Linked DNA regions of Homo sapiens. The protein of the gene in region 1 interacts with the protein of each later gene in a biochemical or structural test. Each region holds a gene or a part of one and is shown on either strand. Other genes may lie near its edges. The genes, in order: NEUROD1, MAP3K10 and MAFA.

What was found.
Region 2: of the proteins of NEUROD1 (region 1) and MAP3K10, one has a biochemical effect on the other in vitro, tested with the Homo sapiens proteins (one study listed by BioGRID).
Region 3: the proteins of NEUROD1 (region 1) and MAFA form a complex in vitro, tested with the Homo sapiens proteins (one study listed by BioGRID).

The regions. Positions count from the first base shown.
Region 1 is NC_000002.12:181,678,934-181,682,679, forward strand, and holds the start of NEUROD1 (neurogenic differentiation factor 1), read right to left. Parts: upstream 1,585-3,746; 5' UTR 1,497-1,584; intron 1-1,496. UniProt on the Homo sapiens protein: Acts as a transcriptional activator: mediates transcriptional activation by binding to E box-containing promoter consensus core sequences 5'-CANNTG-3'.
Region 2 is NC_000019.10:40,208,318-40,212,063, forward strand, and holds part of MAP3K10 (mitogen-activated protein kinase kinase kinase 10), read left to right. Parts: intron 1-785; coding exon 786-902; intron 903-3,746. UniProt on the Homo sapiens protein: Activates the JUN N-terminal pathway.
Region 3 is NC_000008.11:143,429,144-143,432,889, reverse strand, and holds the start of MAFA (transcription factor MafA), read left to right. Parts: upstream 1-2,157; 5' UTR 2,158-2,483; coding exon 2,484-3,545; 3' UTR 3,546-3,746. UniProt on the Homo sapiens protein: Transcription factor that activates insulin gene expression. Acts synergistically with NEUROD1/BETA2 and PDX1. Binds the insulin enhancer C1/RIPE3b element. Binds to consensus TRE-type MARE 5'-TGCTGACTCAGCA-3' DNA sequence.

The DNA.
Region 1 (3,746 bases):
AGATACGCCTTCAGCTTCCACTCCCTAAACCTGTACAAATGCTTGCGAAAAGTACCTGCCCATTACAAAATGAATGCCTCTGAGAAAAAGTTAAATGCAGTGTTTTATAATGGCGCGTGCGTGTGCCCCGCTAGTACGTAGGAGTGAGGACAGGACTGGGGGAGGGTAGTGAATATGTATATGTGTACACCACTCACGCATATGTGTTTGTATCCTAGTGATTAACTTAAATGTGTTTATGGTGGTTGCCCGACAGGATAATGTGTGTGGAAATGACTGTACATTTCAGCGACTTCATGTTTATCCAAATGTGTTCAAAGTTACTCACAACTCCATAAAAAAAAAAAAAAGCTGTAAAATCACACATTCTACTTCCATTTCTGTCCTGGCTTCCAGATACTTAGCGATTTAAGTTGAACAGCCATTGCGTAATTTACTAATACTGGCAGCGATTTTTAAGAAGATTACATCGACGGGATACTGAAAAGCAAATGCAGAAAGGAGGAAAAATAGTTTCCACCAAATTGTTTCACCATCAATGTAACATTTGGCAACAAAAGTGGACAGGGTCTTCCACCCCTCCCTCGCCTTTCTTTTCTTGCCTTCCATCTCTGGCCCACCGCTAAATTTCCACCTTGTACAAAAGCGCTAGCTGCAGGGCGAGGGCTGGGGGCGCGGCGCAGAGCGCTCTCCCACGCGCCGGGGATCAGGTGCGGAAGGCTCCTCTCTAATAAACAGCCCATTGAAAGGGCCGCCCGCTCTTTATTGGGGCTTTTCAAAGTTCGCCTCAAACCTCCCTTTAAAAGATTGAGTAATTATAATGGTCAGCGATTGGCAACCGCGAAGTTGCCGCTTCTAGTAAGGAAAATAAAAAGCCTTTAGTAAAACAACTGAATTTCTGGCTCCAGTAGTGGCTGCTGGGGACTTGGCCGCCTCTGGAGCGGTAACAGGTAGCAGGAGTGAGTCCCTCTCCCTTTCTCCACTTTCCCCCCTCTCAACTAAACTATCTCTGAACCTGATTTATTTTCCATGGTGTGAATACTCAAGGTATCCATGTCCCTTTCATTCACTGAAAACACAGCTTGACACTCCCAATGTGCGTAAAATACATGCACACAAAATATATATTGATAACATAGATTTTTTTTTCTTACTGTAAGAAGTGAGAAAGTGAAGTCATTATTGCTTTTGGGACTTTAAAATCAGCACTAGCAGATAATCATAGTTACCGTGCATTCTTTTAAAAAATCCAAGAAGCTCCTATGCTATCCACAAAAGAAACCCAAATTTTTAAAATTTAAATTAGAAAGCCTGCAGGGGGTACTTGAGTGACACGACTCATTATGTGTGAGTACTTATGGGCAATTATGGAGGGGGATGCTGGTCTCAATACACATACACACTCTCGCAAACGCACACATACAGAATATGTAGGTTCATCAGTCTTCAGTTATTGCTTCTATTCTGGGGCAAAAAAATGAAAGAACTGTAATTACCTTTGTTGTTAGTAGGTCCTGAGCAGTGATAGTCTCATAACCCTGGGGCCTCCGGACGCCGCGCCTCCTGCGTGGGCGAATTCCTCGTGTCGTGGCCGCGCGGGCGCTCAGGTTATATAGCCCAGTTAGTGATGCTAAGCGCGGGCGGGGCCGCTAGCTGAGGGGCTAGCAGGTCTATGCGCCTGACGCCTGCGCACGCGTCCAGGCTGTGCGCTCCCCGTTCTCCCCTCCTCCCCACTTCTCCCCACGCCTTGCTCGTCTCCCGCCCTCCTCCGACAACCGCTCCCCTCACCCTCCACCCCTACCCCCGCCCCTCCTCCTTCCTCCCCGGCATGCGCCATATGGTCTTCCCGGTCCAGCCAAGAGCCTGGAACCACGTGACCTGCCCATTTGTATGCCGCGGAGCGCTCCATTCCGGCCCCTTTGTGGCCAGAAGAAAGTGGCCCATCTGTCGCCAGTTAGAGACTCCGCGGACCTGTTTTTACCCGCAGGAGAGATTAACCCTTTCAGGCGGCAGAAGGGACGGGGATAGAGGGGGGAGGGGATTTGAGGGAAGGAAGGGAAAAGCTAATGTTAACTAGGTCTAGATCAGAGCGAGTGGCCTGCTTTCGCGCCGGAAGTAGGACAGAGGTGAAAGAGGCAGAAGCGGGGAGACTGAGGCACGCAGTGAAGAGTCCTCGCTCCTTTCGATTTCTTGTCCTGACACTGGCATCCAGAGCAGCATGACTCCTTGCCCTCTCTGAAAGGCCCATCCCTTGGCTTCTTCTCCTTGGCAGACGCTTTGATCATTGGCGCCAAAGGATGGCTTCTCCTAATCTCCGTCGGCCCCTCTAAGCAAACATATACGCCATATAAAAGCGGCTTCATCTGTAAACGCAGCGTTGAGATTAGTTCCCCAACCTCCCTAACCGGATCGTCCTCTCCCAGTTCCTTCAGTACAGAAAAGTTGTACCTGCCATTCTATCCCTACCATACGTGCAATTCTTCATGTCCTGACCTTCAGCTACGACTGTTCCTCCAGACCCTCTCACTACGTCAGTCCCCACCTCCATCCCCAGGATCTTGTCCTCAAAGCGAGCTAGTTCTCGCGAGGAGGCCTTGGTTCCATTGGCCTTTGCGCTCTCTTATGTGGGAGCTGGGGACTTCTTTGACGGTTGTATTCTGCCTTTTAACCATGGCCACTGGGTTGCTGGAAAGGGCACCCTCACTCAGCCAGTCCAGGGACGCTTCTGGTTCCCTGGCCAGCCCGCCCTGGACGGCCTCGGCTCTCTAGTCCAGGCATTGACCACAAGTACGGTGGTGGACACCTCGCCACAGCCGGACCTGCGCTCTTGCTCCCCTCAGTCTCGGGTCTGTATAAGATACTTGATTCAGACAAGCGTTTTCAAAGAGAAGATGCAATGGGCCTGTGCTGAACGGGTCTTTCCGATCTCTTTCTAGAAACGCCTTTAGCACAACCCCGGAAGGATTAATGGCTGCGAACTCCTCCAGACTTCAAAGCCTCTGATTTGAAACTCCCAACTTGAAGGTCAAGCAAAGACCACAGAAATTCTCGACCAGTTCTGAAGGAGCCATATTGTTGCCCAAATAGCAATTCTTTACTCTTTTCGAACAAGGGTTTTCCAGAATAATAGATTTTAAAAAGAAAGAAAGAAACTGGCCTGTCTACTCGTTCTTTCCCAGCTTTGCCTCTAATCCTTCATTAACTAACTCCTTACCCCCTCCCAGACCTGAAACCCTCTGCAATAAATACCTCTTACGTGAATTGCTTATTTAAAGGCAATTGCACTAAACATCCCTCGAGTTTGCAAACAGCGACAGGGTTGAGAGGCTGGATTGGGGTGCATCTGGGAGAGGGTGGGGACGGGAGGAGAGAGTAGGGGTAGAGGAAGAGGGTCCTAGCCAGATCCCCGGTGTCTGAAGGTAGCAGGTGCAGCCTTCCCTGCACAGTACTAATCTAAAAGGGGAAGAAAAGAGTTGTGCCACCGAAGCGTGGCGTGAATCGTTGTGGGGTTCTGGAGTTTTGCTTGCTTTTCTACATTCACTTGGCTGACAAAGCGCATAGGGGAGGATAAAATAATTCACCCAGGAGCCTGGGCCCAGGATTTACCCCTGTACTGTCTGTATCTTCAGTGTTGGGCTAAAACTCGAGGGCGTCGGAGTACTAGCCCTTAGAAGATAGTACACAGCCCGACGTTTGCGGCAGGGCCAGGTTAAGTACTGCCCCTCACCCGGCAGCTGCCCCGACTG
Region 2 (3,746 bases), on another chromosome or scaffold:
CCCGCCACCACGCCTGGCTCTTTCTTTCTTTTTTTTTTTTTTTTTTTTTTTTGTATTTTTAGTAGAGACAGGGTTTCACCGTGTTAGCCAGGATGGTCTCAATCTCCTGACCTCGTGATCCGCCTGCCTCGGCCTCCCAAAGTGCTGGGATTACAGACATGAGCCACCGCGCCCAGCCCCCATACCTGTTTTTAAAATTTAAACTCAAATTGCGGTAATTACAATAAAATAAAGAGTTGGCTGGGCATGGTGGCTCACACCTGTAATCCCAGCACTTTGGGAGGCGGATGCTGGAGGATTGCTCGAGGCCAAGAGTTCAAGACCAGCCTGGTCACCACAGTGAGAACTCATCCTTTATATATATATATATATACAGTTTAAAAATTAGATAAATAAAGGTTAAACTCCAATTCCCCCATTGCACAAGCCACATTTCAAGGTGCTCAGCTGCTACACGTAGCTACTGGCGGCCATATTGGACACTGAGGCCTAGGTCCTTGATCCACAAGAGCTCTTGTGCTTGTACTTATTAAACCACAGTCCATTGCTGAGCCTCACCCCAACTTGCTGATTCAGGGAGGGCCCAAGAATTTGCATTGCCAAGAAATTTTCAGCTGATGGTGATGCTGCTGTTCTGGGGCCCACACTCTGAGAACCACTGCATTAAGGAATGAAAAATGGCGGTGTTCCCATTCTAGAATTCCTTCTCTACTTCTACAGAAGAAAATTCCCTTTGGTAATCCCTGGAACCATTTGCTTAGGAAAGCTTCTCTTTCTTTCTGCAGGCTTTGAGCATAAGATCACAGTCCAGGCCTCTCCAACTCTGGATAAGCGGAAAGGATCCGATGGGGCCAGCCCCCCTGCAAGCCCCAGCATCATCCCCCGGCTGAGGGCCATTCGCCGTGAGTATCTCCCAAGGCCCTGACCAGTCAGTCAGTCAGTGAACAAACATTTTTTAGCACGATGTTTATACCTGGCACCAAGCCAGAGTAACAGCAAGAAAGAAGACAGACAAGGCCCTTTTCCTCATTCTTATCACAGGAAACAGATAGTAAACAAATAAGTCAGTAAGCAGGATAATTTCTTTTTTTTTTTTTTCTTTTTTTTTGGAGACAGACAGAGTCTCGCTCTATCTCCCAGGCTGGAGTGCAGTGGTGCAATCTTAGCTCACTGCAACCTCCGCCTCCTGGGTTCCAGCGATTCTCCTGCCTCAGCCTCCCGAGTAGCTGTGGTTACAGTCACACATGACCACGCCTGCCTAATTTTTTGTATTTTTAATAGAGATGGGGGTTTCACCATGTTGGCCAGGCTGGTATCGAACTCCTGACCTCAAGTGATCCACCCACCTCAGCCTCACAAAGTGCTGGGATTACAGCATGAGCCACCGCGCCCGGGCGCAGGATAATTTCTAGTAGTGATAAGTTCTTTAAAGGAGCTCAGGGAAGGGAATAAAAGAGGAGATGTATTAATCGGAGTTCTTCAGAGAAACAGAATCAACAGCATATGTTTAGATATATAGAAAGAGATGTATTGGCTGGGCACGATGACTCATACCTGTAATCCCAGCACTTTGGGAGGATGAAGTGGGAGGATTGCTTGAGCCTAGGAGTTCGACACCAGCCTGGGCAACAAAGCGAGACCCCATCTCTACTTAAAAACAAAAACAAAGGCCAGGCGCGGTGGCTCACGCCTGTAATTCCAGCACTTTGGGAGGCCGAGGCAGGCGGATCACGAGGTCAGGAGATCGAGACCATCCTGGCTAATACGGTGAAACCCCGTCTCTACTAAAAATACAAAAAGTCAGCCAGGTGCTGTGACAGGCACCTGTAGTCCCAGCTACTCGGGAGGCTGAGGCAGGAAAATGGCATGAGCCCGGGAGGCGGAGCATGCAGTGAGCCGAGATAGCGTCACTGCACTCCGGCCTGGGCGAAAGAGCGAGACTCCGTCTCAAAAAAAACAAAAACAAAAACAAAAGAAATAGATGTATTATGAGGGATTGGCACATACGATTATGGAGGCTGGGAAGTCCTGCAATCTGCCTTCTGCAAGCCAGAGGTGCGGGAAAGCCGGTGATGTAGTTCCAAATCAAGTCCAAAGACCTGGCCCAGCACGGCGGCTCACGCCTGTAATCCCAACACTTTGGGAGACCGAGGCAGGTGGATCACCTGAGGTCAAGAGTTCAAGACCAGCCTGGCCAACATGGTGAAACCCAGTCTCTACTAAAAATGCAAAAATTAGCTAGGCGTGGTGGCGCATGCCTGTAATCCCAGCTACTCGGGAGACTGAGGCAGGAGAATCACTTGAACCTGAGAGGCGGAGGTTGCAGTGAGCCGAGATCGTGCCACTGCACTCCAGCCTGGGCGACAGAGTGAGACTCAGTCTCAAAAAAAAAAAAAATTGTCCAAAGACCTGAGAACCTGAACACCAATGTCCAGTGTCTCAGGGCAGGAGAAGATGGATATCCACGCTCATGCAGAGAGCAAACTCACCCTTCCTCTGCCTTCCTAGACAAAAAGAGCTAACTCTCTTTTTGTTCTGTCTGGGCCCTCAGTGGATTGGATGGTGCCCACCCACATTGGCGAGGATGATCTCTCTTTACTCAGTCCACTGATTGAAATGCTAATCATCCAGCAACACCCTCACAGAAATCATGTTTAACCAGCTACCTAGGCGTCCTTTGGCCCAGTCAAGTTGACGCATAAAATTACCCATCACAGAAGGGTTGCGATTTTCCATCTGGAAGCCCTATGGGAGGAGGTGAGGTTTGAGCAGGGACCTTCCTGCTGAGTGAGACAGGCTGAGACCTCAGGGAAGCATGCCCCTGGCGGAGGGAGCAGCAAAGGCAAAAGCTGGAGGTGAGAACAGCATGGGCTGCTTGTTAACCTGTTTGGCTGGAGCAGAGTGAATGGGAGGAGGACATAGGTTTTGTGATCAGGGAGTTCTCAGGGGTCAGATCAGGCAGGGCCCTGAGAGCAGGATAAGAGTCTGGATTTTCCTTTCTTTTTTTTTTTTTTTTTTAATTTTCATTTGACACCTTTGGTATGGATTTTTTTGTTTTTAATTTTTGTTTTTAGTTCTGGGGTACGTGTGCAGGATGTGCAGGTTTGTTACATAGGTAAACGTGTGCCATGGTGATTTGCTGCACCTGTCAACCCATCACCTAGGTAGTAAGCCCATGCATTAGCTATTTTTCCTAATATTCTCCCTCCCCCACCCTACCCCCCAACAGGCCCCAGTGTCCGTTGTTCCCCTCCCTGTGTCCATGTGATCTATTTGCTCAGCTCTCACTTATAAGTGAGAACATGCAGTGTTTGGCTTTCTGTTCCTGCATTATTTTGCTGAGGATAATGGCTTCCAGCTCCATCCATGTCCCTGCAAAGGACATGATCTCGTTCCTTTTTATGGCTGCATAGTATTCCATGGTGAGACAGACGCTCGCTCTGTCTCCCAGGCTGGAGTGCAATGGTGCGATCTCAACTCACTGCAACCTCTGCCTCCCAGGTTCAAGCGATTCTCCTGCCTCAGCCTCCCAAGTAGCTGGGACTACAGGCCTGCACCACCATGCCTGGCTAATTTTTGTATTTTTAGTAGAGATGGGGTTTTCACCATGTTGGCCAGGCTGGTCTCCAACTCCTGACCTCAAGTGATTCTTCTGCCTGGGCCTCCCAAAGTGCTGGGATTCCAGGCAAGAGCCACCGCACCTGGCCTGGTATGGATTTTCTTTTAACTGCCCTGGGGCAGCCCCC
Region 3 (3,746 bases), on another chromosome or scaffold:
CCAGCCTCCACCACCTTCTCCCACCTCTCAGAGCAAGATGAGGCACTTAGGCTTCCTGTGGGTGGTGGCGGGATGGGGGTGCCACTGAGTCCAAGCATGGCTGTGGGGTCAGCGTCCCTCAGCCTGAGGTCACAGCTGTGGCCCCGGGGAAGGTTCCCACTGCAACAGCCTGGGGTCAGGCGTCTCCTTCATTCCCACGGGTGTGCTGGAGTCCTCCTGGGCTGGTGACCAAACACCCTCTCCTGGTCTCCTTGGCCTGGCAGGAGCCACAGTGCGATGGGCGGGAGGGGGGGACAGTGGGGACACAGCCCGGTGCAAACACTCTCTCTTTCCTCCTCAACCCCCTTTCCAGTGTGCCCCAGGGCCTCCAGGGTGTGGTACCCAGAAATGCTGCTAGACCCTTGGAGGGGCCGTGGGAGGGCCCTGTAGCCCCAAGGCCTCTCCTGGGGCTGCAGGTGCAGACAACCTGGACTACCACCAGCTCCACTGCGCGGCGGCATCCTCCCTTCCCGGGCCTCCCTCTCAACACGGGGTGCCATAAAGGAAACCCCACACCCCTGGCTGGCTGACCACTCGTGTGGTCTCAAGTCCAGGTACCCAGTGTGGGGACTTGGCTCTGCTGCATGCCCACTTCATTTCTTCATCTGTAGAAGGGTGGGGAGCTCAGAGCCCCCTCTGGGACAGGATCGGGGGAGAGGGGTCCCTGCAGGTGGGTCCTCATGCTGTCCTTGGCCCTCCCTTGCGGGGAGGAAGGCCTGGTCTTCCCAAATCAGCAGTCCCAGCTCTGCCCAGAGGAGTGGGAGGGCCCAGGGAAGGGCCAGGGACACCCCGAGACACCTTAGGAAGCAGATGTTCAGTCCTCACTTCATGACAGTCTTCTTGTTACAAAACAATAGATCTTTGTAGAGGGAAGGAGGTGAGAGCCTGGTACTAAATCTGCGGCGCCGTGACCAGGCCTCCCTGTGGCCTCTGCGCAACTCCTTCCAGGCTTTTTTTCTCTACACAGGTGGTTACATTTTAGACTTTTTTTTTTTTTTTTTAAATTGCTGAAGTCATAGAACAGCAATGGAGAGAATTTCGAGAAGAAACAATAGGCCCACTTCGGGTCACCGGCCTTGTAACTCCTGGCGCAACCCTCCCATCACCCGGCTCGCTGGTGTCGGGGACCTGGGGTCACAGGCCCACCGCCCATCGTCACCTCCTTTGCCCCGTGAACCGGAGCCGTCTCCTCCCAGCAGGTGCACGGCCGCCAGGTGGAAATCCCCGCCTTCCCGTCTCAGTTACCCCCCGTCCCACTCCAGGCCCAGCAAGGCGCCTCCAGCCCTGCGGGGGGCGAAAGTGGGCAGTGGTGGCCGCTTGGGCGGGGATTCCTAACGCCCTGAGGGGCTGCCAGCCCGTGGGCCCCGCCCCCGCCGCTCGCACCCACCCGCGTTGTCCCGCGACCCCCACAGTCCTGCGCTCTCCGCGGCCCCCCACAAGCCGGCCCTCCGTCCCCGGCCCCTCGCGCCGCCCCGCACGCGTGTGTCCCCCTCCGCCCGCCCCGTGCTTCCCGGTGCCCGGAGGTGCCGGCAACTTTGTTGACCAAATTCCTGAACGCGTCTGAGCCGCGGGCTAAAAATAACCGGCTCAGCGCGCCGCGCTCTGCCGGGCCGCGCGGTGTCACCCGTGTCCAGAGGCCCGGAGGTCCCGCTGCCGCCGCCGCCGCCGCTAGCGGAGCTGCCCCCGGCCCCCAGGCCCGGCCGCAAACCCAGGGGGCCGAGGGGGCGTCCCGCCGCGTGGCCCGAGGCGGACGAGGCCCCGAGGGGGTCCCCGGGCGCGGTCCCCGTCTGCTTCCCCGGACTCTCCGGCCGCCGGGTGTGGGAGCTGAGGCCCCTGGAGACGGCAGTTGTCCCCTGAGGCGGCGCGCCCTCTGCCCGTGCAGTGCCCCGTGATGGCCACCAGAGGGCCCTGCCCTCTCCTCTAGCCGGCGGCCCGTCCCTACCTCTTCCCACAGCTGTTTCCCGCAGGAGATTGACAGCTGGGCTCTGAGTTGCCATGGGGATAAGCAAATGAGGGCGGCGGGGCTGGGGCTCCGATTGGCCCGGGGGCGCGCGCCCCTCCCGGGGAGGCGGGCCCAGGCACCCGGCTCTATAAAGGGGCGCGCGCGGCTTCGCGTTTAGCCGTGGGAGGCGGGGCCGGCCGGCGGCGCGGGTGGGGCGCGGGAGCGGTCCCGGAGCAGCCCGAGGCGGCGGCCGCGGGGAGGAGGCGGCGACGCGGGCCCGGGGTCGCCCGAGACACCTGGCCAGCGGTGCCCCTAGCGCGCCGCCCCGGAGTTGACCACGTGAAACTTTTCCCTGCGCCCCTCGGCGCCGCCGCCCCGCGCCGGCGCCCCCCCGCCCCCGCCGGGACCGCCGCCCGCGGGGAGCAGGGGGGGGAGAGGCCTGCAGCTCCCCCCCCACTCCCACGCCGCCCGTCGGGGCGCGGCCGGGCGCGGGCCCCGGGCGATGGCCGCGGAGCTGGCGATGGGCGCCGAGCTGCCCAGCAGCCCGCTGGCCATCGAGTACGTCAACGACTTCGACCTGATGAAGTTCGAGGTGAAGAAGGAGCCTCCCGAGGCCGAGCGCTTCTGCCACCGCCTGCCGCCAGGCTCGCTGTCCTCGACGCCGCTCAGCACGCCCTGCTCCTCCGTGCCCTCCTCGCCCAGCTTCTGCGCGCCCAGCCCGGGCACCGGCGGCGGCGGCGGCGCGGGGGGCGGCGGCGGCTCGTCTCAGGCCGGGGGCGCCCCCGGGCCGCCGAGCGGGGGCCCCGGCGCCGTCGGGGGCACCTCGGGGAAGCCGGCGCTGGAGGATCTGTACTGGATGAGCGGCTACCAGCATCACCTCAACCCCGAGGCGCTCAACCTGACGCCCGAGGACGCGGTGGAGGCGCTCATCGGCAGCGGCCACCACGGCGCGCACCACGGCGCGCACCACCCGGCGGCCGCCGCAGCCTACGAGGCTTTCCGCGGCCCGGGCTTCGCGGGCGGCGGCGGAGCGGACGACATGGGCGCCGGCCACCACCACGGCGCGCACCACGCCGCCCACCATCACCACGCCGCCCACCACCACCACCACCACCACCACCACCATGGCGGCGCGGGACACGGCGGTGGCGCGGGCCACCACGTGCGCCTGGAGGAGCGCTTCTCCGACGACCAGCTGGTGTCCATGTCGGTGCGCGAGCTGAACCGGCAGCTCCGCGGCTTCAGCAAGGAGGAGGTCATCCGGCTCAAGCAGAAGCGGCGCACGCTCAAGAACCGCGGCTACGCGCAGTCCTGCCGCTTCAAGCGGGTGCAGCAGCGGCACATTCTGGAGAGCGAGAAGTGCCAACTCCAGAGCCAGGTGGAGCAGCTGAAGCTGGAGGTGGGGCGCCTGGCCAAAGAGCGGGACCTGTACAAGGAGAAATACGAGAAGCTGGCGGGCCGGGGCGGCCCCGGGAGCGCGGGCGGGGCCGGTTTCCCGCGGGAGCCTTCGCCGCCGCAGGCCGGTCCCGGCGGGGCCAAGGGCACGGCCGACTTCTTCCTGTAGGCGCCGGACCCCGAGCCCGCGCCGCCGTCGCCGGGGACAAGTTCGCGCAGGCCTCTCGGGGCCTCGGCTCGGACTCCGCGGTACAGGACGTGGACACCAGGCCCGGCCCGGCCGTGCTGGCCCCGGTGCCAAGTCTGCGGGCGCGGGGCTGGAGGCCCCTTCGCTCCCGGTCCCCGTTCGCGCGCGTCGGCCCGGGTCGCC